Homo sapiens: one gene and its partners. The protein of the gene in region 1 interacts with the protein of each later gene in a pairwise test. Each region holds a gene or a part of one and is shown on either strand. Other genes may lie near its edges.

The links.
Region 2: the proteins of CMTM4 (region 1) and MIDN interact in binary tests that used the Homo sapiens proteins (3 or more experiments, as listed by UniProt).
Region 3: the proteins of CMTM4 (region 1) and SSX3 interact in binary tests that used the Homo sapiens proteins (3 or more experiments, as listed by UniProt).

The regions. Positions count from the first base shown.
Region 1 is NC_000016.10:66,629,526-66,639,604, forward strand, and holds part of CMTM4 (CKLF-like MARVEL transmembrane domain-containing protein 4), read right to left. Parts: intron 7,057-10,079; coding exon 6,880-7,056; intron 1-6,879. UniProt on the Homo sapiens protein: Acts as a backup for CMTM6 to regulate plasma membrane expression of PD-L1/CD274, an immune inhibitory ligand critical for immune tolerance to self and antitumor immunity. May protect PD-L1/CD274 from being polyubiquitinated and targeted for degradation.
Region 2 is NC_000019.10:1,250,693-1,260,344, forward strand, and holds the end of MIDN (midnolin), read left to right. Parts: intron 1-869; coding exon 870-957; intron 958-1,146; coding exon 1,147-1,209; intron 1,210-3,261; coding exon 3,262-3,390; intron 3,391-3,474; coding exon 3,475-3,786; intron 3,787-4,209; coding exon 4,210-4,369; intron 4,370-4,729; coding exon 4,730-5,002; intron 5,003-6,302; coding exon 6,303-6,580; 3' UTR 6,581-8,451; downstream 8,452-9,652. UniProt on the Homo sapiens protein: Facilitates the ubiquitin-independent proteasomal degradation of stimulus-induced transcription factors such as FOSB, EGR1, NR4A1, and IRF4 to the proteasome for degradation. Promotes also the degradation of other substrates such as CBX4.
Region 3 is NC_000023.11:48,353,565-48,364,354, reverse strand, and holds the start of SSX3 (protein SSX3), read left to right. Parts: upstream 1-7,651; 5' UTR 7,652-7,721; intron 7,722-9,085; 5' UTR 9,086-9,105; coding exon 9,106-9,174; intron 9,175-9,608; coding exon 9,609-9,723; intron 9,724-10,260; coding exon 10,261-10,356; intron 10,357-10,790. UniProt on the Homo sapiens protein: Could act as a modulator of transcription.

The DNA of each region.
Region 1 (10,079 bases):
AATATTTAATCAAATCCTTGAATCTCTTGAGTGATATGAGCATCTTTTGTTATTCATAATGAGTCCCTTTCAATCATACCCGAGTTTATGCTAACGAAGTGACTTTTGTGGGAAGAGGGTGGTAGACAGTTTCAGGATAGGGGCAGGTCACCAGAAAAACCAGCCAGGTGATTAGAGAGTTGGAATTTTCAGCCCCATCCCCTGGACCTCCAGGGAAGTTAGAGGAGCTGGACATTGAGTTCAATCACCAAATGGCCAATCAGTCATGCCTACCTAGTGAAATCTCCAGAAAAAATACCTGAACGATGGGGTCTGGGGAGCTTCTGAGTGGAGCTCATTCTGACTCCATAAGGACAGAGGCTCCTGCATCTGAGGCCCTCCAGACCTCACCCTATGCATCTCTCCCATGTGGCTGTTCCTGAGTTGTATCGTTTAAAACATATCAGTAATTGTTTAAGTAAAGCCCCTTCCTGAGTCCTGTGAGTCACTGCAGAAAATGACTGAACCTGAGGGGTGGTGGAAACCATCGAATCTGTACTCAGCCAGACAGAAGTGCCTGGGCACCCCTTTTGCAGCTGGTGTCTAAAGTGGGGCCATCTTGTGGGACTGGGCCCTCGTCTGTGGGATCTGTGCTAACTCCGAGAGTTAGTGTCAGAATTGAACGGAATTGTTAAACACCCAGTCAGTGTCAAAGGATTACAGAACAGCTTGGTGTGGAAAATGTATTTGGTGTCAGAAAAAAAAAAACACAAGACTTTCCCTCTCCCTCTCCCCCTCCCCCTCACCCTCCCCCTCCCCCCTCCCTCTCCCTCTCCCCACAGTCTCCCTCTCCCTCTCTTTCCACGGTCTCCCTCTGATGCCGAGCCGAAGCTGGACTGTACTGCTGCCATCTGGGCTCAATGCAACCTCCCTGCCTGATTCTCCTGCCTCAGCCTGCCGAGTGCCTGGGATTGCAGGCGCGCGCCGCCACGCCTGACTGGTTTTCGTATTTTTTGGTGGAGACGGGGTTTTGCTGTGTTGGCCGGGCTGGTCTCCAGCTCCTAACCGCGAGTGATCCGCCAGCCTCGGCCTCCCGAGGTGCCGGGATTGCAGACGGAGTCTCGTTCACTCAGTGCTCAATGGTGCCCAGGCTGGAGTGCAGTGGCGTGATCTCGGCTCGCTACAACCTCCACCTCCCAGCCGCCAGCCTTGGCCTCCCAAAGTGCTGAGATTGCAGCCTCTGCCCGGCCGCCCATCGTCTGGGATGTGAGGAGCCCCTCTGCCTGGCTGCCCAGTCTGGAAAGTGAGGAGCATCTCTGCCCGGCCGCCATCCCATCTAGGAAGTGAGGAGCGTCTCTGCCCGGCCGCCCATCGTCTGAGATGTGGGGAGCGCCTCTGCCCCGCCGCCCCGTCTGGGATGTGAGGAGCGCCTCTGCCTGGCCGCGACCCCATCTGGGAGGTGAGGAGCGTCTCTGCCCAGCTGCCCCGTCTGAGAAGTGAGGAGACCCTCCGCCCGGCGGCCGCCCCATCTGAGAAGTGAGGAGCCCCTCCGCCCGGCGGCCACCCCATCTGAGAAGTGAGGAGCCCCTCCACCCAGCAGCCACCCCATCTGGGAAGTGAGGAGCGTCTCTGCCCGGCAGCCACCCCGTCCGGGAGGGAGGTGGGGGTCAGCCCCCGCCCGGCCAGCCGCCCTGTCCGGGAGGGAGGTGGGGGGTCAGCCCCCCGCCCGGCCAGCCGCCCCGTCCAGGAGGGAGGTGGGGGGTCAGCCCCCCGCCCGGCCAGCCGCCCGGTCCGGGAGGGAGGTGGGGGGTCAGCCCCCGCCCGGCCAGCCGCCCCGTCCGGGAGGTGAGGGGCGCCTCTGCCCGGCCGCCCCTACTGGGAAGTGAGGAGCCCCTCTGCCCGGCCACCACCCCGTCAGGGAGGTGTACCCAACAGCTCATTGAGAACGGGCCATGATGACAATGGCAGTGTTGTGGAATAGAAAAGGGGGAAAGGTGGGGAAAAGACTGAGAAATCGGATGGTTGCTGTGTCTGTGTAGAAAGAAGTAGACTTGGGAGACTTTTCATTTTGTTCTGTACTAAGAAAAATTCTTCTGCCTTGGGATCCTGTTGATCTATGACCTTACCCCCAACCCTGTGCTCTCTGAAACATGTGCTGTGTCCACTCAGGGTTAAATGGATTAAGGGCGGTGCAAGATGTGCTTTGTTAAACAGATGCTTGAAGGCAACATGCTCCTTAAGAGTCATCACCACTCCCTAATCTCAAGTACCCAGGGACACAAACACTGCGGAAGGCCACAGGGTCCTCTGCGTAGGAAAACCAGAGACCTTTGTTCACTTGTGTATCTGCTGACCTTCCCTCCACTATTGTCCTATGACCCTGCCAAATCCCCCTCTGCGAGAAACACCCAAGAATGATCAATAAAAAAATAAAATAAAATAAAATAAAATAAAAAAACACAAGACGAGTCACGCCCTAGGGCTCAGGGCTCAGCCAGTGGCCCCTGTGGGTAACTGCCAACTGTTCTCAACCCACCACAGCACCCAGCCTGGGTTCTGAGATAGAGGCCTAAGAGGCCTCCAGGGCCACAGAGCCCACTAAGAAAGGGTGACCAAAGCGGAAGAAGAAAAACAGGACAGTGTGGGGGCCCAGGATGCAAGGTGAGAGAGTATGGCAGGAAGGACAGAGTGCCCCATAGCAGACACCACCAGGATGTTGAGTGGGGTGAGAACCCAAGAGCAACCAGAGGATCTAGGAACACGGAGGCCCCGTCCCAGGCTCCTGACCAGGGGACTTTCAATGCTGCCAGACTGGAGTGGGCTGAAGATGAATTGCGGAAGACCACCACATAGTCAGGATGGTGGACTGGGGGAAGGGGCAGGGGGTGTGTTTAGCTGGAAAATACACATGGGAAGCTTTTGGGGTGTTGACAATCTCCTATTTATTGACCCAGGTGGTGGCTGTATATTAAACTCCATATTTACTTTCATAATTTTTTCAGAATTTGACAATAAGAGATTAGAAAAGTGAGATTAGGAGAGGGGGAAGTAGAGAAGGCAAGTGCAGACCTCCTCTTCTGGGAAGTGGGGCTGAGCTGGCCCTGGGCTCTGGGGCCAGTTGAGTGGGAGCCACTGGCAGGCTTTTGGGATGGGGGAGGATCAGACACGCCTTTTAGATAGCGCCACATCCCAGAAGGGAAGGGGAGGAAAGGAGGAGCCCCGTGGCACTAATCAAAGTAAACAGGGGTGGAACATGTGAGTGTATGAGCTCCTAGGACACAGAGAAAAACAAATATCGCCAGGCACGGTGGGTCACGCCTGTAATCCCAGCACTTTGGGAGGCTGAGGCGGGCAGGTCACCTGAGGTTGGGAGTCCAAGACCAGTCTGACCAACATGGAGAAACCCCCTCTCTACTAAAAATACAAAAAAATTAGCCGGGTGTGGTGGCACATGCCTGTAATCCCAGCTACTCGGGAGGCTGAGGCAGGAGAATCGTTTGAACCTGGGAGGTGGAGGTTGCGTTGAGCCAAGATTGTGCCACTGCATTCCAGCCTGGGCAACAAGAGCGAAACTCCGTTTCAAAATATATATATATAAATATATATATATATAAATATATATATATAAATATATATATATATCAAAGTCCCACAATCCATCCAAAAATAAACCCAAACCAAAAACTTGACATTAACAGAATCATTCAAATTCCATCAAATTATGCTTGTAGAAAATTATGCACTGTCCTCCTTATTTATCATTTCTCATCCATATTTATGTCAACCTGGGCTCCTGGAATGACCTGTGTTTTTAAATCTATACCAATCACACCCTATTTTAACCATCAGGCTGGCTCTGCTGGAGACAAAAATACTCCCAATACTCCCACCACCTTGTTACAGAAACACAACACAGCCAAGGCCAACCCTTCTGTAGCGAGTTGATGAGCTGAGATCGGCCGTGAGGAGCTCACTTTTTCACCCCTCTCAGAGAACACTGGACATGAGCTGCCTTTAATAGATACCATCTTGGCAGGGTGCAGTGGCTCACGCCTGTAACCTCAGCACTTTGGGAGGCTGAGGTGGGCAGATCACCTAAGATCAGGAGTTGGAGAACAGTCTGGCCAACGTGGCGAAACCTCGTCTCTATTAAAAATACAAAAATTAGCTGGGCACGGTGGCACATGCCTGTAATCCCAGCTACTCAGGAGGCTGAGACAGGAAAATCACTTGAACCCGGGAGGCAAAGGTTGCAGTGAGCCGAGATCGCACCACTGCACTCCAGCCTGGGCGACAGAGCAAGACCCCATCTCAAAAAAAAAAAAAAAAGGTACCATCTCCTCAAGTTCATGTAAGGTATATGCCCTTTTGTTGGGCAAACACACAGCCTTTATCTGCTCCAAAAGAGTGGAAAGTCTAGAACGGATCCCAAAGAACAGGATCGTGTTCTCAAGTGACCACATCACCAACACCCAACCACAGGCCCAGGCCACCACCACCCAGAGGAAAAGAACGAGTATCAACTTCCCTGGGGAGAGATGCACCTCAACATGACCGGTGACATGGTAGTGTGGTAGTCAACAAGTGGAAAATCTTTCATGATTAAAATAGAAAAAGCAGAATTCCAGAAAGCTCACTAAATAGGTATTTCTGGGCTGGGTGTGGTGGCTCACACCTGTAATCCCAGCACTTTGGGAGGCTGAGGTGGGTGGATCACCTGAGGTCAGGTGTTTGAAACCAGCCTGGCCAAGATGGTGAAACCCCATCTCTACTAAAAATACAAAAATTAGCTGGGCATGGTGGTACATGCCCATAATCTCAGCTACTAGGGAGGGTGAGGCAGGAGAATCGCTTGAACCCGGGAGGCGGAGGTTTCATTGAGCCGAGATCACGCCACTGCACTCCAGCCTGGGCAACAGAGCAAGACTCTGTCTCAAAAAAACAAAAAAAAAAACCCAAAAACAACAAAAAGTAGGTATTTCTGGGGATAAACGCTGGTATAAATTAGTAAGAAATCTGAAGCATGAAGTCTTTTAACAGGTTAATGGCTGTCAGATAAATGGACAAAACAGAATTAAGGGGGTCAAGTCAAACCTGGTGGAAGTAAACAGGGGAACAGTGTGGGTAACATAACAGCAGCGTGCCAGGACACCTCTTACTCAGGTGAGATGAACATTGCTGCACTGGCCACAGCGCCCACTGGTTTGAGGCCTTACCAGATGCCTTTACACCCATTACCTCATTTTATACTTAAAAAAAAACCCTGCAAAAAAAAAAATTATTATCTCCACTTTACCAGTGCTGACACTTCACCAATGTAGGGCTCTCAGTGACTAGCCCAGGGTCATGCACAGCCTGTTTCAGCAGCTACCTTGGACTTGAACCCAGCTCGGTCTGTCTGACTCAATGCCTATAGTCTTAACCTTTCCAGCAGCTGCTTCTTTGTCAAACAGGTCCTCCCGCAGGGTTTCACAGCCCAGCCCCTTACTCAACAAGTATTTATTGACAGGCCTCAGGAACACTAGGCAAGTAGGATAGCAATGAACAAGATGCTGACCTTGACCTTGACCCTGCATCCATAGTATGAGCATTTTAACTGGGGGAGGTTTGCAAAGTTCTCTTAAACAGTCTACTACATGCTCTGTAAGCATTTTCTTATGGATAACATAAACCTCATTTTAAAAATAGTTGAGACATTACAACCTGTCACAAAAACTCAGACAAAATGCTTCTAGTTATCTTGAGGTTTTAGAGCTTAAATTTAAAATACCACCACATTTTTCTCAGCTTCCAGTGCTAAGACAAAAAACAGCTAAGTTTTCAACTGATATCTACTTTTCTAGATCAGCAACTCTCCTTTTTTCCTCCTTTAGGAGTCTGTGCTGGTTAGGACAACCCAGAGAGCACCTGTAAGGAGGACCTTCCCCACCCAGGGCACACCAGGAGAGCAGCCCTGACAGGGAGGTGGCAGCTCCAGCCTCCTCCTTGGGGCCCACACTTTCTCATGGGCCCAGCAGCAGCCAAACACAGACAGAGCCACGTGTGGCTTCTGTGTGGCTCCCAATCTCAGGCAAGGGTAGCTGGTCTGAGGCGCTCTCCTCCTGCTTCCCCCTCAGCAGCTGAGGTGCCCACGGCGTTCTCATCCCACAGGCACAGCAGTGTGAGGCAGCCGACTGTGCTTACGTGGATCTCCCTGACTGACTCCCTTTGAGCTCTTGCACATGCTAATTTGTAAATAAATATCAAGAAAACCAAATGATATTAAAATCCTCTTCTCATTCAGCACAGTAAGGACACAGTCTAGGAAAGGGGGTCTAGGACTGACCAGCCCTGTGCTTCCCATCTGATTAACAAGGGTGGCCAAACAGAGCTAAGAACCCAAACCATGGGGAGAAGGGGCAGGTTTCCACTCAAGACTTTCTGATCAAACCACCAAACCCCCCCAGGTCCTCCTAGTTGCTTTGAATTTAATAATATTCCTAGGCTCTGTAAGTTACTGGCATTTTCATTCATATTTTCAATTCTTCCAGAATCAATATTTTTATAAATGGCTTTTAGGTCCAGTCTGAAAAGTATGTAAATGTCTACACTGTATTTTATTTCCCATATTCTCCAAATATCAACATGACCAGTCTTCTCAGATGATTGCAAAATTGAAATGACATCTTTAAGGTGGCCAAAATAATTGTTATGATGTTTCTCCCATTAGTTAAGATTCAGTTTATTTTGTAGTTTTACTTAACCCAGTAAAGAAATTTAAAATTTCACAGTTGAATTATAATAGAATATTTAAGGATCAAAATGAACTAGAACCAAACATGACCTGGAGAGATTCCAGCTTTTCCTTGGAGCCAACAGGCACGTGATCCTTTCATGGCCAGAGTGGCCGCTTGTACTCACTGTCAGATTCCAGTTGATCTGGGGGATCCTCATGTGCAGGTTGAGACTGAACATAATCAGCAAGACGCCAGTCACCACAAACGCACTGCAGCTCACAAACTCAAAAAAGTAGAGGCCTTCACACGGGGAGCATGCCATGATGGTCTCTATGCAGATGAATGCAATCAGGGCCAAGATCTAGGAAGAAAATTGGAAACATATATGTACGTATATGTTTAGTATACATCTGCGGACATACGTACCTGCCATGCTTATATAACACTGAACAACAACATACTGCCACTGAGTTTTCCTCTGGGACAGCAGTGTAACTGTCGGAAATCAGACCTGCTTCAATTCTTACCTAAAGAATAGGTGCAGGGGTCTTAATGGAAGGATCAAATTACTAATGTAAACAGTGAAGGCCCCACCACATACACTGAAATCAATCTGGTGTGATGTGGCCCCCGGGTGTAAACTGCTGGCCCTTGGGAGGAAGCAGAAACATCTCTACAATGTTTCTAGGTCTTCTCCTGCCACCAATAAGTAAGTGGGTGTTGCCTATGTGTGTTTCTAATTCATGGTCTCTACCACAATTATCCCAAACACTGGGAGAGCAGAATTCTGATGGTGTCTGACTTGTGCCATCTGCAGTTACCTTGGTGGCTCCTGCTAAAGTCACACAGGTTAACTGGGACTCCTGACGGCTTTAAAACAATGATTGGTATAATCTCCTTTTCCCCCAATTAGGTGGGAACAAGAGGCGCACCTAATTAATTCATATGGTTTTAAAAAATATATTTTTTGAACTTGATCACAACAAGATGGCAGCTTATTAAAAAACATTAAGAAATCTACCAATAATAGAATAAATTTCTAGGCTGGGCACGGGGGCTCATGCCTGTAATCCCAGTACTTTGGGAGGCCAAGGTTGGCAGATCACCGGAGGTCTGGAGTTCAAGACCAGCCTGACCAACATGGAGAAACCCCCTCTCTACTAAAAATACAAAATCAGCCGGGTGTGGTGGCGCATGCTTGTAATCCCAGCTACTCAGGAGGCTGAGGCAGGAGAATCGCATGAACCTGGGAGGTAGAGGTTGCAGTAAGCTGAGATCGCGCCATTGCACTCTAGCCTGGGCAACAAGAACGAAATTCCATCTCAAAAAAAAAGAATAAATTTTTTTCTGAAGGACCAAAGTACCATTCTGGCAATATGTCCTAAGAGTTCATAGATCATAAAATCAAATAGATATTGATAGAAATTACCAAGTGAACTTTTAAAGGGGGATTTCAGGAGAAGGAGGAGGCCCAAAGGCGGAGTTAATGGCCCTGTGATCAAAGAAAGGTTTCGAGCACCTAAAGCCAGATCAGTCTCAGGCTCCCGCTCCGCCCAGTTCAGTGGCATCTGAAGCCTATGCCGCTGCTTCCAGGCTGGCCTCCACCTCAAAAGTCAAGGAAGCAGAGGCAGGCAGCTCTGTGGTCCTCTAGAGACTTGTCCTTTAGAGCTTGTGGGAAATGCAGAATCTCTGCTTCCTCCCCTTGAACTACAGAATCAGAATCTGCTTTCTGATGAGATCTTCAGATGATTAAAATGCCAGCAGCATCCAAGGCACGGGCTGTTCTGGGGCCTTTCTCCACCTGCTGAAAGTCCTACTCATGCTTTCCAATGCTCCACTTGATGATGCCGCCACCTCCTCCCCATGTCTTCCCTGACTGCTTCTCCCTGCCAGACATCAGCTTATCCCACCCTCTCCCAGGAAAGCTGGTTCATCTGTGATTGCATTCTATCCTTACCATCTTGCAGCCTCTGCCTCCGGAGCTTTTAGGGGGCAGGGTAGTCCATCCCCATCTACCCCCAAGGCACCAAGCACAGTAACTTTCACATAGCTGGCAGATGGGGGCTGAATGAGCCATTAGAAAACCCACATCTACAATTCCTGGTTGCCTGGTCAGTGTCTTCAGGCGAATGGAAGAGTGGTTCTGCCTTTCCCATTGTCAATACTTCTACACAGAACCTCTTTCCTAACAATATGTGGTCTTTTCTAAGTCAACACATTAAAGACATGGGTCTTCTTGGTCAAAGGATACAAAATTTCAGTTAGACAGGAAGAATAAGTTCAAGAGATCTATTGTACAACATGGTGACTTAGTCAACAACAATGTATTGCATTGTATTGTTGAGAGGAGATTTTAGGCTGGGTGTGGTGGCTCATGCCTGTAATCCCAGCACTTTGGGAGGCTGAGGCAGGTGGATCACCTGAGGTCAGGAGTTCGAGACCAGCCTGATTAACACGGTGAAACCCCGTCTCTACTAAAAATACAAAAATTAGATGGACATGGTGGTGGGCGCCTGTAATCCTAGCTACTTGGGAGGCTGAGGCAGGAGAATCACTTGAAACCCGGGAGGCGGAGGTTGCAGTGAGCTGAGATCGTGCCACTGCACTCTAGCCTGGGCGACAGAGTGAGACTCCATCTCAAAAAAAACAAAAACAAAAGCAAACAAACAAACAGAGTAGATTTTAAATGTTCTCACCACAAAAAAAAAAAACAAAGGTAAGTATGTGAGATAATGCACGTTACCTCACTGGATTGAGCCATTCCACATTGTATACACATTTAGAAACATCATGCTGTACACAGTAAATATAGAGATTTTTACTTGTCAATAACACAAAAGATATGGGTCTTTAAATATACACACTGTGCTTCTCCTAATAGCTCTTCTTATAATTCTCTACTGCACCATAGACTTTAATTCTCCATCTGAATTACATGCCTAACTTGCAATCAATTCACAAAAGAAATAGTTCACATAAGGGAAACTCCTAAACTTTCCCCTTTTTTTCACCCCAGTAATCAGATCTAGTAATCTTGGGCAAGAAATAACACACTGTACTGATGAGTTACAAATGTTTCTGGTATGCTAACTTCAACCATATTTGTGTGGGAAGGTAACACCTACATTCTTAAATATTAACATAAAAATGGCTTCACGGATATGCAAATCTAATAGACCATTTGTTGTGGCAGTGAACAAAACAGACAAAAACTCCTGCTCTTAGCTCACAGTCTAATAAAGGAGTTGTTTTTTTTTAAATTACATTTAAAAAGAGTGAGTTAGTGATAAGAACGAAGGAGAAAAATGGAAGCAGGGAAGGTGAACAAAGCATAGCTGGGGCAAAGGTGTTCGAAAGTTTAGACACAGAGACCAGGAAGAGTGG
Region 2 (9,652 bases), on another chromosome or scaffold:
CTCCCCCGCCCGGGGTCGCCGCACAAAGGCGGCTGCGAGGGCGTCCCGGGCCGGGCTTCGGCGGCCCCCCTTGGGGGCGGGCAGGAATCCCAGGGCGTTGCGGGGGTCCCGGCTGCGGGTGTGGGGGCCGCCACCGCCCCCTCCCGCCTGCGTCCGCGCCGGCTTCCGCATCTGCTCGGCGGCCTCCTCTGCGTCTGGCTGTCTCCCCCCACTTGCGTCTCTCTCCCCCCCTTTGTTCTCGCCTCCGAGCGCTCCCCGCAGCCTCCCCTCCCCCCTGGTATTTAAATCGCCTGCAGGCCCGGAGCCCTCCCCCCGCGGGCCTCCGGGGACACGCAGTGTCCATCCCAGTGGAGGGGCCCATCGGGGGAGGGGCGGAGGGGGAGGGTCTCCTTTGTCTGCGCGGCGGCGGCCGCCTGCGCCGGGGAGGGAGGAGGAGGGGGAGCCCGGCCCGGCGCAACCCCCAGGGCCTCTCCTCGGGCCGAAACCCGTGGTTCCTACAAAGAGGAGCCAGGACTAGAATTAGGGAATTGGGGGCAGGGGCTGCCCTGGGGTCGTGGGGGAAGGTGGCATAGAGCACACTGGGGCCCAGAGGAGGAGAAAGTGCCTGGTTGGGGTGCAGAGGGGGTGCCAGAGTCCAGGGCGGGGGTTCCACTGGAGGGAAGGGGTCCGAATCGCCAGGATGGGGCTCCCAGCACCAGACGGAGACCTCTCTGCACGCGCTTAGGGCCCTGGATCTGGAAGCCGGGAAGGGGTGGGGGTGGGAACTTATCCGTCTCTCCCCACACAAGCACAGCCCTCCCCCGCGGCCTCTGCTTCCGCGTCCCTGTGTCGTCTCCGCGGAGTCTCATGCTCTTCCTTCCTCCCCCCAGCCGGCTCAGTTCGGGGAAGCTGCAGGAGTTCGGCGTGGGTGATGGCAGCAAGCTGACCTTGGTACCCACCGTGGAAGCGGGCCTCATGGTAAATGGCCATGGGGCTGCGTGCCCCCAGAGGCCCCCGCACACAGGCAGTAGCCCCTCCCTCGGTACCTGTCCGCACACACACTACCTGGGGCCCCCACCCCGCCAGCCAGCAGGGCCCTCTCCACCCCCTATTCCAGCCCAGGATTCCGACCCCACACTCAGGCCCCTCTCCTCCCTCTCTTTGTAGTCTCAGGCCTCAAGGCCGGAACAGTCCGTGATGCAAGCTCTCGAGAGTCTCACGGAGACGCAGGTAAGACCTCGCCAGCCCCTTCCTAACAGGGCAGCCCTGGGAGCAGGGTGCCTTGGCCACCGACGGGGCCTGGGGGTTGTCTGTGCTCCCAGGAGGCTGGGGGAGGGGAGGGGACGCGCCACCCCGCCTGGGTGCCAGCCTGGCCTGGCCTCCCCACCTCCTCTCCCCCAAGATTCACCACCTGACCCGGAGGGCTTTCTCTCCCACGGTGGCTGCCCTGGGGGAAGGGGGCCTGGCTTTCACAAGACTGCCTGCAGGATGACCTTGGCCTATGGGGCCTCATCCCCGCTCACACCCTGGCCTGCATCCCCAGCCCCCTCCGCCCCCACCGAGGAGCCCCCCTCCAGCCGCTGTGGCTTCCCCAGAGCGAGTTTCTCCTTTTTTACATTTCTGCTGAGGGCTGGGGGTGGCGGCTTGGGTGACACTCCTTCCGCCTTCCGTGACCCCCATCGTGAGAGGGTGGGGATCTCGTCACCCTCCCCTCCTCTCTCTGGCCTTTGTTCTCTACCCCGAAAGGGGAGGGGGCGGGGGTGCCCAGCCCTGGGGCCAGTGAGGCCTAGACAGGATGTTAGGAAAATATTTAGTAAGCGGCCAGGAGGGAGGCTGGGGCTGGCCCTCACCCGGTTCCCGGTTTTGCTGCGGACTTTTTTTTTTTTTTCTCCTTCTTTCCTCATTTTCTTGGCTGCGGCCAAGCCTTCCTCAGACAAGGGCCCTGGCCACCTCCCAGGAGGGTGACACAGGCCTCAGCAATCCGCCCGCTGCCAGGGTGGGGGACGCAGGCTGCCACCCGCCCCAGCAAGGGGTGGCCGGCTTCCCGGGCCTCCCTGGCCCCGAGGCCCGCACCCCCTTCCGCTTTCCCAGCGGCATGTAGAGTCCTGCCCTTTCCCTACATCGCGGGGGCAGGGCGGGGGCCGGGAGCTGGGTGGTCTGCCATGGGGGTGGCCACAGCAGCAGCAGCAGTGGCGTGGGGGCAGAGCCGGGGTCCCGAGCCAGGGCGGGGGCTGCAGGTGATTTCCTGGGGCGAGTGTGAGCAGAGCTCCCCGCCGCTGGGGGGCTGCGGTTGGCAGGGGGCCCAGGGCGTGTTGGCTTCACACCCTCCTCCCTGGGCGCCTGCGTCAGGAAGGAGCTGGGTTGGGGGGGGCTGGAGGGGGTGCTGGGCGGAGACACTGGGCTCCCCAGGGTTGCTTCCCTGCCTGGCACCGAGTCATGCCCGCCCATTAGCCTTCCCCAGGGAGGAAGTTGCAGGGCGGGTGGTGGTGGGGACTCCAGCTGCTCTCGGGAAGCCACCCCGGGCCCTTCCTGCAAAGGCTGTCTTGGGGCAGGGGGGTAGGGGGCCGGGCAGGCTGGGCCGCAGGGTGGGGGCTTCACCCTGCCCTCCTCCCTGCCTCCCTCCCCATGGGCCCCAAGCAGAGAAGGTTACGCCAGCTACTGCCAGTGGAGAGGAGAGCCGGGAGGGAGAGCTGGGAGGCGGTCGGTTCTGAGTCATCCCAGCCTATGTCACTTCTCAGAAACCTCCGCCACCCCCCCCCCCATCCCGGCCACTGGGGAGAGCAGGGCTCTGGCCCATACCCAGAGCAGGGGGCTTGGCGAGGACAGGGTGAGATTCAACCCACACCCACCCTGAACGGGGGCAGATTGAGGGTTTCTGTGCTTGGAGCAGGTTGTGCCCTCCGGGACTCCAGCCCCAGGGCGGTCAGGGCCCCTTCCTGCAGCCTTGCCACAGCCCCCTAGGCCTCCGCCCCGCCCAGGACAGATAAATATTTATCTTGAGAAAGCAAAGGTTAGGACAGAAGAATTCGTGCAGGAATTCCACCCACTTGCTGGCCCTGGTGACTTAGCTGGGAGGGGGCCTGAGGTGGAGCCCCTCCCGTATCCACAGGCAGAGAGGATCTAGGGGCCCATGAGGGTGGGGGAAAGGCAAAGTGAAGGTTGTTTGAGGTCAGTGACTGCCAGCTGGGCCCCGCCCCCTCTGGCCTCAGTTTCCCCTTGCAAGACCGACCTAGTTGGCCAGGGAGGGGCAGGCCCCCGTCTGACCCGCCTCTGTCCCCACAGCCCCCAGCGGCGCCCGGGCCGGGCCGGGCTGGCGGAGGAGGCTTCCGGAAATACAGATTCATTTTATTTAAGCGTCCGTGGCACCGACAGGGACCCCAGAGCCCAGAGAGGGGCGGCGAGAGGCCCCAGGTCACAGCGCGGGGGGACTGGGCCGGGCTGGGCTGGGGGCGCCGCAAGCTGGGGCTCCCAGCTGACGGACCGCTCTCCTTGCAGGTCAGTGACTTCCTGTCGGGCCGTTCGCCACTGACACTGGCCTTGCGTGTGGGCGACCACATGATGTTCGTGCAGCTGCAGCTCGCGGCCCAGCACGCTCCACTGCAACACCGCCATGTGCTGGCCGCTGCGGCCGCCGCCGCTGCTGCGCGGGGGGACCCCAGCATAGCCTCCCCCGTGTCCTCGCCCTGCCGGCCGGTGTCCAGTGCCGCCCGAGTCCCCCCGGTGCCCACCAGCCCGTCCCCTGCATCTCCCTCGCCCATCACAGCCGGCTCCTTCCGGTCCCACGCAGCCTCCACCACCTGCCCGGAGGTGAGCCTGGGGAAGGGAAGGGTGACCCTTGGTTGGAATCCAAAGGGTGGGCCGTCCTGGGGAGGTCTTGGGGAGGACAAGGACTCTTAGTCCCAGGTGAGTCCCTTGTATTAAGGGCTATCCTGTGACCTCGGGCTGGTGGGTGATCCCCCAGCCTAGATTGGTGGGGTATTTCTAGATCCTGAGTTGACGGTCATCGCCTGACATGACCTGGACCAGTAGATGATCTCTTGATCTTTGACTCATGGGTCATCTCTGTGTCCTGGGTTGGTTGTGACCTCGTGACCTTGGGCTAGTTTATCTCTAAACCCTGTGTTGACAGGTCATCTCCTGACCTGGGCTGGTGGGTGATCTCTGGTCCCTGGGTTGCTGGTGATCCCCTGATCCTGGACCCCGTGCTCATGTGCCCCTTCCTCCCATCAGCAGATGGACTGCTCCCCCACGGCCAGCAGCAGTGCCAGTCCTGGTGCCAGCACCACGTCTACCCCAGGGGCCAGCCCTGCCCCCCGCTCCCGAAAACCCGGCGCCGTCATCGAGAGCTTTGTGAATCACGCCCCGGGGGTCTTCTCAGGGACCTTCTCTGGTAGGTGTCACAGCACATGTGTGAGCTCACGTGTGTCCCGTGACCCTGTGCATTTGGGGTCTACATCCACCCACAGGCGACTCCACATATTCTGGGCATACACAGGCTGTGTCCGTCTGCTCACTTCACATGTCCCCCAGGAATCCCCCACACACACGCCTGGCCCTGCCCGGGGGGCCGCGGGTCACCAGGCGCCTGCATACTGGGGACGTGTCCCGCTCCCGCCCCGTGGTCCCTCGTGCACATCAGCCCACATGTCCACGCCATTGCCTGAGCTCATGAGCTCACACCCGTGGACGCCCGTCCTGGACATGCGGGACTGTGCCCGTGCCGGGCACTCACGGCCACCTCTGCCCGCAGGCACGCTACACCCCAACTGCCAAGACAGCAGCGGGCGGCCGCGGCGTGACATCGGCACCATCCTGCAGATCCTGAACGACCTCCTGAGCGCCACCCGGCACTACCAGGGCATGCCCCCTTCGCTGGCCCAGCTCCGCTGCCACGCCCAGTGCTCCCCGGCCTCACCGGCCCCCGACCTGGCCCCCAGAACTACCTCCTGCGAGAAGCTCACGGCTGCCCCCTCAGCCTCCCTGCTGCAGGGCCAGAGCCAGATCCGCATGTGCAAGCCCCCGGGTGAGTGGCCACCCTCGGGGGTCCTACCTTCCCCGCCCGCCTGGGCTTCTCAAGGCCCCTCTGTGTGAGCTGGTGGGCTCAGGAGCAGCTGACCTGCCCAGGGGCTGGGGGGGATGGCAGCTGCCGTGGCCACTGCTCTGCTCCAGCCCGGAGAGAAGGCAGCATGTGTGTCAGGGCACAAAGTGTCCTTGTGTGCTCCCGGGGGGCCACAGGCCCACTTCCTCCTGCCCCACCCCCACCCGGGGCATCATCTCCAGATGGCATTTGGTGCCTCTGTGAATGGCCAAGTCAGGCCTGGCAGGCCGAGGCGGGGCCAGAGCCCACCCCTAAGCATTTCAGTGACTTGGAAAAGCAGCGAACACAACCCCCCTGCCAGCCTGGCCCCAGCTACTCCCAAACGGCGGGTTACTCCCTCCAGAGTCTCACCAGAAGATGGCTACTGTACTGCCCTTGGGCTCTGCACCCGTCGCGGGGGCTCCTCCCAGCTCAGTTTAAAAGTGGGAAACTGGCCGGGCGCGGTGGCTCACGCCTGTAATCCCAGCACTTTGGGAGGCCGACGCGGGCGGATCACGAGGTCAGGAGATCGAGACCATCTTGGCTAACATGGTGAAACTCCGTTTCCACTAAAAATACAAAAAATTAGCCAGGCGTGGTGGTGGGCGCCTGTAGTCCCAGCTACTCGGGAGGCTGAGACAGGAGAATGGCGTGAACCCAGAGGCGGAGCTTGCAGTGAGCCGAGATCGCGCCACTGCACTCCAGCCTGGGCGACAGAGCGAGACTCCGTCTCAAAAAAAAAAAAAAAAAACCAAGGTACAACCCCCAAGTATCTCCCCTCGGATCACAGAAGCGGCCAAGCCCCCTCCATGTAGGACTCCAGGAAGAATGAGGCAGGACAGTCCTGACCTCCCCAGCTCATGGCTGAGCTGGAGAATTAGAAGCCAGCTGCGTAGCTGGGACTCCAGGCAAACACCACCATGCCCAGCTAATTTTGTAATTTTTGTAGAGGAGGGGTCTCGCTCTGTGGCTCAGGCCTGTCTCGAACTCCTGAGGTTGCCCAGGCCTGTCTCGAACTCCTGAGCTCAAGCGATTCTCCTGCCTCGGCCTCCCAAAGTGCTGAGATTACAGGCGTGAACCACTGTGCCCGGCATGGTGGATGTCCTTGACTGTTTCCTTTGCTGACCTCCCTCCAGGGAGGGCAGGACTGTGTCTGACCTCAGGGGCATTTGCTGGGGTCTGGGGTGGTCCTCTGTGTTCAGCAGGTGGAGGCTTTGGGAGTCACAGGCCACTACCTCCTTTGCAGGGGACCGGCTTCGGCAGACAGAAAACCGCGCCACGCGCTGCAAGGTGGAACGGCTGCAGCTGCTTCTGCAGCAGAAACGGCTCCGTAGAAAGGCCCGGCGGGACGCGCGGGGTCCGTACCACTGGTCACCCAGCCGCAAGGCCGGCCGCAGCGACAGCAGTAGCAGCGGGGGCGGCGGCAGCCCCAGCGAGGCCTCCGGCTTGGGCCTCGACTTCGAGGACTCCGTGTGGAAGCCAGAAGTCAACCCTGACATCAAGTCAGAGTTCGTGGTGGCTTAGGATCTTCGGATCGGCCACCCTCGCCCCTCGCACCCCAGCCCAGGGCGGCGGGGACTCCGAGAGCCCCGGAGAGAACGTGGCCCAGCCCTGGAGGGCAGGCGGCCACTCCCCCAGCCAGAAGTCTTTTTTTCTTTTCTTCTTTTTTATTATTTTTTTCTTTTTTTAAAAAGTTCTGACCGTGGTTTCCTGGACTCTTCATGGGCTTTGCTTCCTACCTCCTTCACCCTTCACTCCTGCCCTCCTCTTCCTCCTCCTCCTCCTCCTCCGTCTGTCTCCTTTCACCTCTGCGCCAGGTCGGTCCTCCCTGCCAACCTTCCCCAGCTCCAATATGTAGCAGTCTCTCTGGATGGCGGAGAGTGAAGGAGACGGAGAAACGCGCCCCATCCCTTCCGCCGCCTCCTTTCCCCCCCGACCCTATTCAGGTTTTAAGTCAAAAATGTCGATATGTCATTATGCACTTTACAGATGAGGGGAGGGGCCGCAGTGCGCAGAACCCACCCCACCCCCCAGTGCAGACTTCGGGGTCTCCACCCCAGGCCAGCAGCGCCCACTGGGCTACAGCAAGCCAACAGGTCACAGAAGCCAACGAGGGGACTGTTTCTCTTCCACTCCTATCCTCTTTTCTTGATCTTTTTTTTGCATTTTCCTTCATTTCTTTAACAAGGAGAGCAAAGCTGTTTTAGCAGAGGCTGGGGCTGAGGTCCCCATGGGGTTTGGGTGCAGGGGCATGGCACCCTTTCCTGTCGGGAAGGGAGAGGGGAACTACCCCCCCAGCCTGCCCTCCGCCCCGCCCCAGCCGGCGGACTGTGCTGTTTCCTCCGCCCCCACTCCCGTGTTTTCTGACCTCCTGCCTGAGTTTGGGGTATTTATAGACTATTAATTTTCTGACTGAGCCAATAGTGGTTGGGGAACTCTTGAAAAAGGGGAGAGAATGGCTGGGTGCTGGGGAGTTCCCCCCTCCGAGCCCTCCTTCCCGGCCCAACCTGAGGGATGTGGATTTGGGACTGTCTGGGGGCCCCTCCTGCAGCGAGGATGGGAGGGGGTGCTGAGCTGTGAATCCCCTGGGCAGGGGGCGACAACTCCGTGTAGCATTAACCCCCGTGGCGGGGTCCGCTGCTGGTCTAATTTGGACCCCCTGCCTCTCAGTGCCCCTGCCCTAGGGGTGTCTGTCTCCAGAGGGGAGGGACAAATCCCCTACTGGGGCCATTTCAATGGGGTAGTTTTTGGATTTTTTTCCCCACTCACTTTTTATTTTTTAATGATAATGGAGATGTCTGGACCCTTCCTCACCCCACCTGTCGGTCTTGTCCTGGCTCTGCCTGTCCCCCACCGTTGTTCTCGTAGGTGAACCCCAGGTCCTCAACTCCCCCCCTTTATGTGTTGAAAGTTAATGGTTTCAGATGTGAACATCACGTGTTATAACTGTAGCGCTGTAAATTTTTTTGTGGGAGGGTGGGCAGGGAGGGGTCCCAGAGGGTAGAGCTCAAGGATTTTGGGTTTTGTTTTGTTTTCATTTTTCCAAAAAAAAAAGAAAAAAAAATAGAAAAAAAAGGAGTAAAAGGGGCGGGTTTGTTTTTTGAAGAACTGTCTTGGATACCTATTTAAATGTGTGTTCTGTTTTGTTTTTTAACGATTTTTAAATAACGTCTGTGCCTCCACTGGTTGAGGGTGGAACCTCCAGGCAGGAACCGGCTCGCCACCCTCTGCCCGGTAAGGGCTGCCCAAGAAAGCATTACCCGCCCTCGGGGGGTCGGGCTGTGGGGGTCCCGGCACCTGGCGTGAGTTTCATGTATGAAAACATAAAATTGAAAAAAAAAAAAAAACCTACACGAGCACCGTGATTTCAAGTAATAAACAGAAAATGAAACACACATTGACTCCCGCCTGCTCGCCTAGTGGGGGGATCTGGCCTTGGTTGGGAGGGTTCCTGGGGTGGGATGTCAGCTCAGGGAGTCAGAGGGACTGACCTGGGTCCCAAGGCCCCGAAGAGGGGGTGGGGCAGGGGTCAGGGCCCTGAGAATTTCCCACGCTCCTTCCCCGGCTGCCGGGTGGGCAGGAAGCAGCCAGGGTGGGAGGGAGGAGCCCAGCCACTTCCTGGTACCCAAGGCCGGAAGTCCCTTAGGGTGTGGGGCGAGGGCCTGCCTGCCTGCTTCGTGGCCTGGGCAGGACCCTGGCCCCCTCAGGACCTGCCAGTATGGGGGAGACGCGACCACCAGCTCTCCCCAGCCACAGGAGTCGGGGACTCCCACTCTGCCACACCCACCTGCTCCCCTTCCTGGAGTCTCACATCTGTGTGGCTTGCTGCAGGGAGATCACCAGGCCGACTGGGAGGACCTAGGACTCCGCAGGGTACCTTGGGCTGGCAGGTGATACAGGCCTGGCTTGACCCAGCCCTGGGGGGCCTCTCTGGCCACACCTCCTGACATTCCAGCCCTTCCCAGACCTGGCCTTCAGCTCCAAACCTCCCGGCCTTTGCCCCCTGTCTAGGAACACCCCTGGTCCGGCTGTCCCTTGCTGTCTGGGAACTTCCCCAGCCTGCGCCTTCCACCCCTGTCCACCCCGTCCCGCAGACCCCACCCTTCCCTCTCTCTGTCCCTAGCCTGGAGCTCCCCGTGAGCCTCACCAGGACTGAGTCCTCTCTGGGGTCCCACCTCCACCCATGTCCGGGCTGGGCAGAGATGAGGCAATAACACTATTTCATGTCTTTTTTTAAATTTTGTAACCTGTATTTCCTCAGGTAACAAGAGTTGCCTATGAGAAGTAATTGGGCTCCCATTTTATAGATGGGAGAACAGAGGCCCAAAGAGGAACATCACTTGGCCCAGAGGATTTGGGGTGTTTGTTCAATGATGTGACCTCCACCCCTTATCCCATCTCTAGGGGCCCCAGTACCGGGAGCCCCCAGGGGAAGGGGCACAGGTTCAGAGAGTGGCCTGGGAGCACCTTCCTGAGACCCCTCTGCCCCTCCCAACGCCCAGTCAACCCCAAATCATCGCACGCCCACGGCAGGAAGGCGGATGCCCAGTCAGGCGGCACCCACCCCCCGCCCCGTCCCTGGTGCGGATGTCCCCT
Region 3 (10,790 bases), on another chromosome or scaffold:
CTTGGATCTCTTCTCCACTTCCTTTATTATTTTCCTTTCGTAATTTCTGTTTTGTAATCCTTTTCTGCTATATGATAAAGTAGTGCCATGCCTGAACACATTTTTTCATTGGGTTGTTCCAGTTTCTCTTATTGATATGGAAACGCTTTGTTATATATTAGAGATGGTTACTGTTAATTTATTGGGGATGCTTCATTTTCCCCAAAATTTGCCTTTTTTTTTTTTTTTTGAGATGGAGTCTCACTCTGTTGCCGAGGATGGAGTGCAGTGGTGCGATCTCGGCTCACTGCAAGCTCCACCTCCCAGGTTCATGCCATTCTCCTGCCAGGTTCATACCATTCTCCTGCCTCAGCCTCCCGAGCAGCTGGGACTACAGGCGCCCACCACCACACCCGGCTAATTTTTTGTACTTTTAGTAGAGACGGGGTTTCACCGTGGTAGCCAGGATGGTCTCGATCTGCTGACCTCGTGATCTGCCCGCCTTGGCCTCCCAAAGTACTGAGATTACAGGCATGAGCCACTGTGCCTGGCCTAATATTTGCCTTTTTAAACAGTTTTTTATGGTGTCTTTTGACTTAGATGATACTTTAATTTTTACGTCTTTAAATATGTCAGATTCATTATTTATAGCCTTGGTGTAATATCAGGAAGTGCCTATGCCAACTCAAGATGTCTTACACTGTAATATTTTCCTAAAATTTCATCTAGTTCTTTATGACTTCACGTTTTCACATTTAAGTCTCTGAATTTTTAGAATTTATTATTTTATGTGGTTGAAAGTAAGGATTTAATGTTTATTTTTCCAAATGGATAGACACTTGTCAACAATCCTTTATTACACAACCCATCTTTTGCCCACTGTTTGGAAATGCATGCTTAAGTTTGTATATAAATTAGTTTGTTTCTTGACTTATTATTTTGTTTCACTAATTAATCTATTTCTAAGTGTATTCATTTTTGATTGCTGCTGTAACAAATTGTCAATAGCTAAGACAACACTGGGCCCGGTGGCTCACACCTGTATTCCCAGCACTTTGGGAGGCTGAGACGGGCAGATCGCTTGAGGTCAGGAGTTTGAAACCAGCCTGGCCAACATGGCGAAACCCTGTCTCTACTAAAAATACAAAAATTAGCCGGTGTAGTGGCGTGCACCTGATATCCCAGCTACTCGGGAAGCTGAGACAGGAGAACCGCTTGAACACGGTAGACAGAGATTGCAGTGAGCCGAGGTCACCCCACTGCCCTCCAGCTTGGACGACAAAAGTGAGACTCCATCTCAAAAAATATTTATATAGCTAAGACAATTTTTGAAAAAGAAGAATAAGGTGGGAGGAATTGCTCTACCATATTTCAATACTTCTTATATAGCTACAGGAATCAAGACTATATATTATTGGGAGAAAAATAGACACATAGATCACTGTAACAAAATAGAAATCCTAGAAATAGCCCCACACTGATTTTTTACCAAGAGACAAAAATAGGGAAAGATCATCTGCTTAACAAATGATGCTGGGGCAGTTGCAGAGCCATAGGCCAAAAAGAAAAAAAAAAAACCAAAAAGGCCTAATCTTCACACCTTTATACAAAAAAGTAAGTCAAGTGGATCATAGATTTAAATCTAAAATATAAAACTATAAAAGGCCGGGCACGGTGGCTCACGTCTGTAATCCCAGCACTTTGGGAGGCCGAGGTGGGCAGATCACGAGGTCAGGAGATCGAGACCATCCTGGCTAACACAGTGAAACCCTGTCTCTACTAAAAATACAAACAAGTTAGCCAGGTGTGGTGGCAGGCGCCTGTAGTCCCAGCTACTCGGGAGGCTGAGGCAGGAGAATGGTGTGAACCCGGGAGGTGGAGCTTGCAGTGAGCCGAGATCGTGCACTCCATCCTGGGCAACAGAGCAAGAATGCATCTCAAAAAACAAACAAACAAACAAAAAAACTAAAAAAAAAGTTTTACAAGAAAATATAGGAGAAGCGTCTGAGATCTAGGGCATAGTGAATGGTTCAAAAAGCATAATACATAAGGAAAAAATAAATTAGATTTCATCCAATTTAAAACTTTTGCTCTGCAAGAAATCTTGTTAGAAGGATGAAAAAATATGGTATGATCTGAAAGAAAATGTTTGCAAACCACATATCCAAGAAAGGACTCACATCCAGAATATGTAATGGATATGTATAGTACTCTCAAAACTCAACAGTAGGCTGAGCGTGGTGGCTCACATTTGTAATCCCAGCACTTTGAAAGGTCGAGGTGGACGGAGGGCAGATGCCTTGAGGCCAGGAGTTCAAGACCAGCCTGGGCAACATGGCAAAAAACCCATCTCTACTAAAAATACAAAAATTAGACAAGCATGATGATGCGTGCCTGTAATCCCAGCTACTCTGGAGGCTGAGGCATGAGAATCACTTGAACCTGGGAGGCGGAGGTTGGAGTGAGCCAAGATCGTGCCACTGCACTCCAGCCTGGGTAACAGAGCAAGACTCTGTCTCAAGAAAAAAAAATAATAAAAACCTCAATGGTAAAAAATACAAACAAATAATCCAGTTAGAAAATCATGAAAAGATATGAACATACATTTCACTGAAGAGGAAATAAGCAAATAAGCACATGAAAAGATGTTCAACACTCATTTGCTTCACTAGATGCAGAATAACACCACGATGAGGTATCACTACACACTTATTACAATAGCTAAAATAAAAGACATAGTGACAACACCAAATGGTGACAAGGATGCAGAGAAACTGGACACCTTATTAAGTGCTGCTGGGAAGGTAAAATCTTACAGCCACTCTGGAAAGCAGTTTGGTAGTTTCTTATAAAACTAAACATGCAATGACCATACAATTCAACAATTACACTTCAGAGAAATTAAAATGTATGCCCATCCAGAAACTTGTACATAATTGTTCATAGCAGCTTTACTTGTAATAGCCAATAGGTGGAAATAATCAATATGTCCTAAAATAAGTGAATGGTCAAACTGTGCTACATCCATCCCCTGGAATACTACTCAGCAATAAAAATGAACTATTGTCAGGGCACAGTGGCTCACCCTGTTATCACAGCACTTTGGGAGGTCGAGGCAGGCGGATGATGATGTCAGGAGTTCAAGACCAGACTTGCCAGTATGTTGAAACCCCATCTTTACTACTGATACAAAAATTACCCGGGTGTGGTGGCGCGCACCTGTAGTCAGAGCTACTCGGGAGGCTGAGACTGGAAAATTGCTTGAACCCAGGAGGCAGAGGTTGCAGTGAGCCGAGACACTGCACTCTAGCCTGGGTGACAGAGTGAGACTCTGTCTCAACAACAACAACAATGAACTATTGATACACAAATATCAATATCTTGGAGAAATCTCCATGGAATTATGCTGAGTGAAATAAGCCCATAAAACATGATATACTATAAGATTTCACTTGTACAGCATTGTAGAAAAGACAAAATTGTGGAAACGAAAAACAGATTTGTGGTTGCCAGGGATTAGGGATGGCGGATGGGAGGAGAGTATTACTAAAAATGAGTAGCACAAGGGATAGCATTGCGGTGATGAAAATGTACTGTACATTTTTTTTTTCAAGAGGGATTCTCACTCTGTCTCCTAGGCTGTAGTGCAGTGGCACGCTCTCGAGCTCACTGCAACCTCTGCCTCCTGGGTTTGAGCTATTCTCCTGTCTCAGCCTCCCATGTAGCTGGGACTACAGGCGGGTGCCACCATGCCTGGTTAATTTTTGTACTTTTAGTAGAGACGGGGTTTCTCCATGTTGGCCAGGCTGGTCTCAAACTCCTGACCTCAAGTGATCTGCCCACCTCGGCCTCCCAAAATGCTGGGATTACAAGCGTGAACCACTGCACCCGGCCATGTTCTGTCTGTTTTTTTTTCTGAAATACAAGCTTTGTTTAAAATGTAAAGAAATATTAAAAGTAAACTTTTTTTTACAAATTATAATCAAGCACTCAAAACAATTTAGGAATGTTAAACACTAATTCTTAATTCAAAATAATGACATCCATAGACTATATCCTGGTGTTGGTCAATATAAAGTTTACTTAATATTAGTATTTTATAGGCCGGGCACAGTGGCTCACGCCTGTAATCCCAACACTTTGGGAGGATGAGGCGGGCGGATCACGAGGTCAGGAGATCGAGACCATCCTGGCTAACACGATGAAACCCTGTCTCTACTAAAAATACAAAAAATTAGCCAGGCGTTTTGGTGAGCACCTGTAGTCCCAGCCACTCGGAAGGCTGAGGCAGGAGAATGGCGTGAACCCAGGAGGTGGAGCTTGCAGTGAGCGGAGATCGAGCCACTGCACTCCAGCCTGGGTGACAGGGTGAGACTCCGTCTCAAAACAAAAACAAAAACAAAAACAAAACAAAAAAACTAGTATTTTTTATATGCTTAACCATTGATCGTTCCTAAAATTCAATGAAAACAATGATTTGACTTTATAAGGTGAAGCCTTTTATGTAATACGCTAGAGATATCTTTTTCAAATACAAAACCTTTATACCAGCAAGGAAATTATAAAAGCATATATAAAGTATACTGAAGGATGTGATTTAAAGGCTGTCTGTATATACAGATGCATTTCACCTTATAAAGTACACGTGCACATCAAAACACTTTCACTGAATATAGATGCCATTACATTCTCTTAACACTACAAAGCAAATGTCAGGTTCATAAACATTGTCCTATTATGTATCAACTGAAAAAACATATATACACAAAAAGATTTTGAAGACACATGGGAGTGGAATGTGCCTACATTTAGAGCAGAGCTTTTACAGGACCACCTGTCTCCAGCCGGCTCCCAGGAACCACTGAAAACAGCTGCTACCCTCAGAACGGCAAGATGGTCTTGTTAATGATTTCACTGGACTCTCGAATCTCATCCTCCTTGATCACCAGCAGAGGCGAAACCTGATGATGTCACCATGGGTGGGCTTGGCCAGAAGTCCATAATCTCGAAGTCATAGACACACCTCCCAAGCATTACAGTCTATGGTTTCTTTAATAACAATAGCATTTAATAATTATTTTCCTCCCGGGCACAGTGGCTCACGCCTGTAATCCCAACACTTTGGGAGGCTGAGGCGGGTGGATCGCCTGAAGTCAGGAGTTCGAGACCAGCCTGGCCAACGTGGCGAAACCCCGTCTCTACTAAAAATACAAAAATTAGCTGGGCATAGTGGTGCATGCCTGTAATCCCAGCTACTCAGGAGGCTGAGGTAGGAGAATCGCTTGAACCCAGGAGGCAGAGGTTGCAGTGAGCCAAGATTGCACCATTGCACTCCATCCTGGGCAACCAGAGTGAACCTCTGACTCAAATAATAATAATAATAATAATTCTGTTCCTTTTATGGCAGTTACAACATCAGAAGGTAGCTTCATGGGTTCACTTCTCACGATAATACCCATTTTTTTTCTGCATTTTCAGCAAGATTTTCTTGTTCTAAAACCTCAAGGGCTGCGATGGTCACTCAGCAGCCTAGTGGATTGCCACCGTATGTGGACCCATGTTCCCCTGGCTTAATGCTCAGCATTAAGCCATCATCCCACAGCACTGCAGACACAGAGTATCAACCTCCAGAAAGGGCCTTTCCAAGGAGGACTATATCAGGTCTGACATTTTCATGATCAACAGCCAGCCATCTACCAGTTCTGGCCAATCCTATCTGTATTTCATCAGCAATGAACAGAACCAAGCTGGGAGCACGAGATGGGACAAGGGTAAGTTAAAATACCACAAAGCTCCCTGTTCTTACGGAGATTCCGCTGATCTCTCTCTTGCTCTTTCTTTCTTTTTTTTTTTTTTTTCAGTCTTGCTCTGTCGCTCAAGCTGGAGTGCAGTGGTGTGATCTCAGCTCAATGCAACCTCGGCTTCCCAGGTTCAAATCATTGAGTGAGCCCAGGAGGTCAAGACCAACCTGGGAAACATAGCAAAAGGCAGGGTAGTGCATGCCTGTAGTCCCAAGGCCGAGGCGGGAGAATCACTTGAGTCCCGGAGGTAGAGACCAGCCTGGACAACATAGCGAAACTGTCTCTAGTAGAAAAATTAAAAATATTAGTGGGGGCGGGGTGGTGTGAACCTGTAGTCCCGAGGCCAAGGCAGGACGATTGCTTGAGCCTAGGAGGTTGAGGCCAGCCTGGCCAACATAGTGAAACCCCATTTCTACTAACAACAAGAACAACAAAAAAATAGCGTGGGTGGGGTGGCTCACTCCTGTAGTTTTGAGGCCAAGGTGGGAGGATTGCTTGAGCCCAGGAGGTTGATACCAGCCTGGCCAACAAAGCGATAGCCTGCCTCTCCTAAAATAAATAAATAAATAAATAAATAAATAAATGAAAATAAAAATGAGCAGGGCAGAATGGCACACGCCTATAGTCCTGAGGCCAAGATGAAAGCATCATCTGAGCCTAAGAGATTGAGGCCAGCCTGGGCAACATATCGAAACCTGGTTTCTACTAAAACGAAACAAAACAAAACAAAAAATAGCTTGGGCAGGGTGGTGCGTGGCTGCGGTCCTGAGGCAGGAGGATCCCTTGAGCCCAGGAGCTTGATGCCGGCCTGGCCAACATAGGGAAACATGGTTTCTACTAAAAAAAAAAAAAAAAAAAAAAAAAAAATCGTAGGCAGGGTAGTGCATGCCTGTAGTCTCGAGGCCATGGTGGAAGAATGCCTTGAGCCCAGGACGATGAGACCAACCTGGCCAATGAGACCAGCCTGGCCAACATAGCAAAACCTGGTTTCTACTTAAAAAAAAAAAAAAAAAAAAAAGCGTAGGCAGGGTGGTGAATGCCTGTAGTCCCGAGGCCGAGGTGGGAGGATCGCTTGAGCCCAGGACGTCAAGACCAGCCTGGCCAACACAGCAAAACCTTCTCTATTAAAAAATCAAAAAATAAAAAATATTAGTGGGGGTGGGGTGGTTTGCGCCTGTAGTCCCGAGACAGAGGCGGGAGGATTGGCCAAGGCAGATGTAACCAATACCACAATCACATCCCATAAGTAAATACATTTTCCTCTCTCCAGGGCTACAGGTAAAGGATGGTAATTCTGCACACCACACTTAGATTCCCTTTCAAAAATGTAAGCAGAGGTTGGAGGGCCTTGGACTGTTTTTTCAGTGGCAACAGATATAGAAGCCACTGAAGAATGAACTCCACGACTAATTATAGCAAACCTCCGCAAATGTGCTAGTTTGGAAAACATTGTGGCTTTCAAGTAGAAAAATCACAGATTGACTATTTTTTTCTTCCCACAGTTCAGACTAGAATCCAGATTTTTAACCCAAGATCCAGGAACAGTCTTCAGAGAGATCAAAATCTGACGGCGCCTGAGGACCACCCACTTTTTCGCAGTGGCGACAAGGTGTGGCTGGAGGAGGAGACATTATTCTGCAATGTCGCTGCCCAAGGATGATGGACCAATCAGGGCAGTTAGTGAACTCCATCTGGCCAATTAGAAGTCAGAACAGTAGGCGGAACAAGCGAAGCGGATGTGGCTTCTATCAGTCCCGGCTCCAGGGACACAACCTTCTCAAAGTGGGGGTGGAGACTCTAATTTTCCCGCCTAAAGCATCCCCTGGGATTCGCTACTTTAAGTTCAGAGTACGCATGCTCTGATTTTCTCTCTCTTTCGATTCTTCCATACTCAAGAGTACGCACGGTCTGATTTTCTCTTTGGATTCTTCCAAAATCAGAGTAAGAATACACTGATTTTCTTTTTCCATTCTTCCTACCCCTCCCCTCCTCCGTGGTGCATTTGCTATCTAGTTTTAATAAGGAGTGTATATGAGGCAGGCCGCCATCTTAAATCTTTCCTGTCAGTTTCTAACCGCCATCTCAAATCTTTCCTGTCAGTTTCTAACTTTTTCAGGTATGGGATTTTTCCTAGGAACTCTGTAGTAACTTAAGAAATTTGGGCCTGGGGTGGTGGCTTACACTTGTAATCCCTGCACTTTTGGAAGCCACAGCTGGTGGATTGCCTGAACCCAAGAGGCGGAGGTTGCAGTGAGCCATGATCACGCCAGTGCACTCCCGACTGGGCAACAGAGCGAGACCCTGTCTGAAAAAAAAAATCACTCAAATCTTTCCTGCTGGGCTCAAGTGATCTTCTCACCTAGGCCTTGGGACTACAGGCGCGCACCACCCCGCTTCTGCTAAATTTTGTTTGTTTGTTTTTTTTAGTAGAGATGGTTTTGCTACGTTTGTGAGCCTGGTCTCAAGCTCCTGGGCTAAGGCGATCCGCCCACCTTGGCCTTCCAAAGTGCTGGGATGGTACAGGCCTGCTCCACCAACCCCAGCTAACTTTTTGTTTATTTTGTAGACGGGGGTTTTGCTGTGTTTCCCAGCCGGGTCTCGACCTCCTGGGCTCAAGTGACCTGCACGCCTCGGCCTCCCAAAGTGCTGGGATTACAGGCCTGAGCCACTGCGCCTGGCTGATTGCTGCAACTTGAAATGCCCCACATTCTCTCTAAGTGATGGCGGGCTCTTGTAGTCTCAGAAATTCTAGCTCTCTTCGTTCTAATAACTTACAAATCACCCAGTAATAGCCTCTGAACACATTCATATTAGCGATGCTCATTTCTCTTCAGCAGAACAGAACCCCCCATCCCTCTGCCTGATCAGATCCATCACCAAAGAGACCACGTTATCTCTGGGACTAACTTCCCTTCCTTTATTTATTGAGCGGGGGTGTCAGCATGCCCCACTGAATAAAATTACACAGTCATGTCCCTGCCTCCCCAACAAGGGTCCATACATCTTTCAGGGGAAGCCTAGCTCCAGGGAAATTACTAACAACATTAGCCAACCCCCTCCCAAAGACTCAAGGCTGCTTTGCCCATAGGAAACCTGTCATCCCCTATCAATACTTCTCCCAGAGACCCCTGGTTCCTGGTTTTCGTCTGATTTCTCCCCATATCCTTACTCAGGGACAGATAAGCCCCGGATGGAGAAATGCAGCACCTGATTCCAGGTGACTGAGTGGCCGGCCTTCACTGATTTCTCCCTCCACAAGACCAAAGGTCCTGCGGCTGGAAAGTCTCAATCTGTTTCTCTTGCAGGTCAGACTACTCCCTGTGCCATGAACGGAGATGACACCTTTGCAAGGAGACCCACGGTTGGTGCTCAAATACCAGAGAAGATACAAAAGGTGAGGTGACCTAGAGGGAGCAGAGTAGTGACCCAGGGGACAGTGTGGGGTGACCCGGTTTCTGAGGAGGGGAGGACAGAGATACTGGAGACAAGGAGCAGGGTCTCAGGGGAGATCTGGACCCTTGGGAGCCTCCCACCCTCACTCTGTCATCACCTAGCATCCCTGGAGACAAGTCTGTGACCTTGCACTACATTTGGTGACTCTCAGTCCATTCTGGAAGGTGGGAGGAGAGCCAGCCAGCAGCATTAAAGCCCGACAGTGTGGCAGGGGTGAAGCTAGGAAGGTCCCTCATGTTCTGTCAGTTAGCCGTGGCATCAACCAGGAAGGATTATCCCCACTTCCCAGATCCAGCACACAGGAAGCGACTCCAGCTGAATGGCAGACATGCCTAGCTGAGTCCCTGCCATAATTCCTTTTTTTTTTTTTTGTAGGCCTTCGATGATATTGCCAAATACTTCTCTAAGGAAGAGTGGGAAAAGATGAAAGTCTCGGAGAAAATCGTCTATGTGTATATGAAGAGAAAGTATGAGGCCATGACTAAACTAGGTAACAGAAAGTTCTAGGTACAGACAAGTCTGGGGACACATGAGCATCCCTTTTCCTGCTTTGGCTATTTCTTAGGCTGCAGAAAGTACCTCACATTTTCCTTTTGTGTAGGGAAAAATCGCAAGGCAGCTTCTGGGTGTTCTGCTCTTCTATATCCTGTCAGGGCTGAGGGCAGTGACTGGCCACAGTGGAGCTCATACCTGGATCCTGCACGTTTCTCTCTCTTAGGCTTCTGTTCTGATGAGCCCAACTGTCTCTGTGGCATCCCGGCAACCATCCTACCCCCACCCCACACACACCCACTCTACCTTCTCTCGGCTTGTCTCTTTCTTTTTTTTTTTTTTTTGTTTGAGTCAGTCTGAATCTGTCACCTAGGCTAGAGTGCAGTAGTGCAATCATAGCTTACTGCAGCCTTGAATTCCTGGCCTCAAGCAATCCTCCAGCCTTAGCCTCCCAAAGTGTTGGTACTACAGACATGAGCCACCGTACCAGGCCCAAGCTTGTCTCTTAAGGAATAAACATTTTGCTTCTTTCTAGGTTTCAAGGCCATCCTCCCATCTTTCATGCGTAATAAACGGGTCACAGACTTCCAGGGGAATGATTTTGATAATGACCCTAACCGTGGGAATCAGGGTGAGTAGATGGGAAGGGGCTGGAAAGGGTCTCCTCAAGCCCAATTGCTTTTCAGCTCAGCTACCTGGGAAAGAGCCTCAGGCATTTGTTCCCTCATACACATCGGGGCAGAGTGAAAAAAAAAATTGCATGCAGAAAGTTAACTACAGAGGTCATTCATATAAAATTTTAAAACATGCAAAAGAAGAATATATATTTTTATGGATAATAAGTAAATGGTAAATGTATACAAACATGAATGTGAATAAAAAGCCATCAAACTAAGGTGACTGGCTGTAAGTGGAGGAGGGAGGGAGGGCAGGGATTGCTGAGTGCTGCACAGACAGCTTCAGCTGTGACTTGTTGATAGTGTGTTTTGTTTGTTTTTGTTTTTGAGATGGAGTTTCACTCTTCTCGGCCAGGGTGGAGTGCAATAAGGCAATCTCAGCTCACTC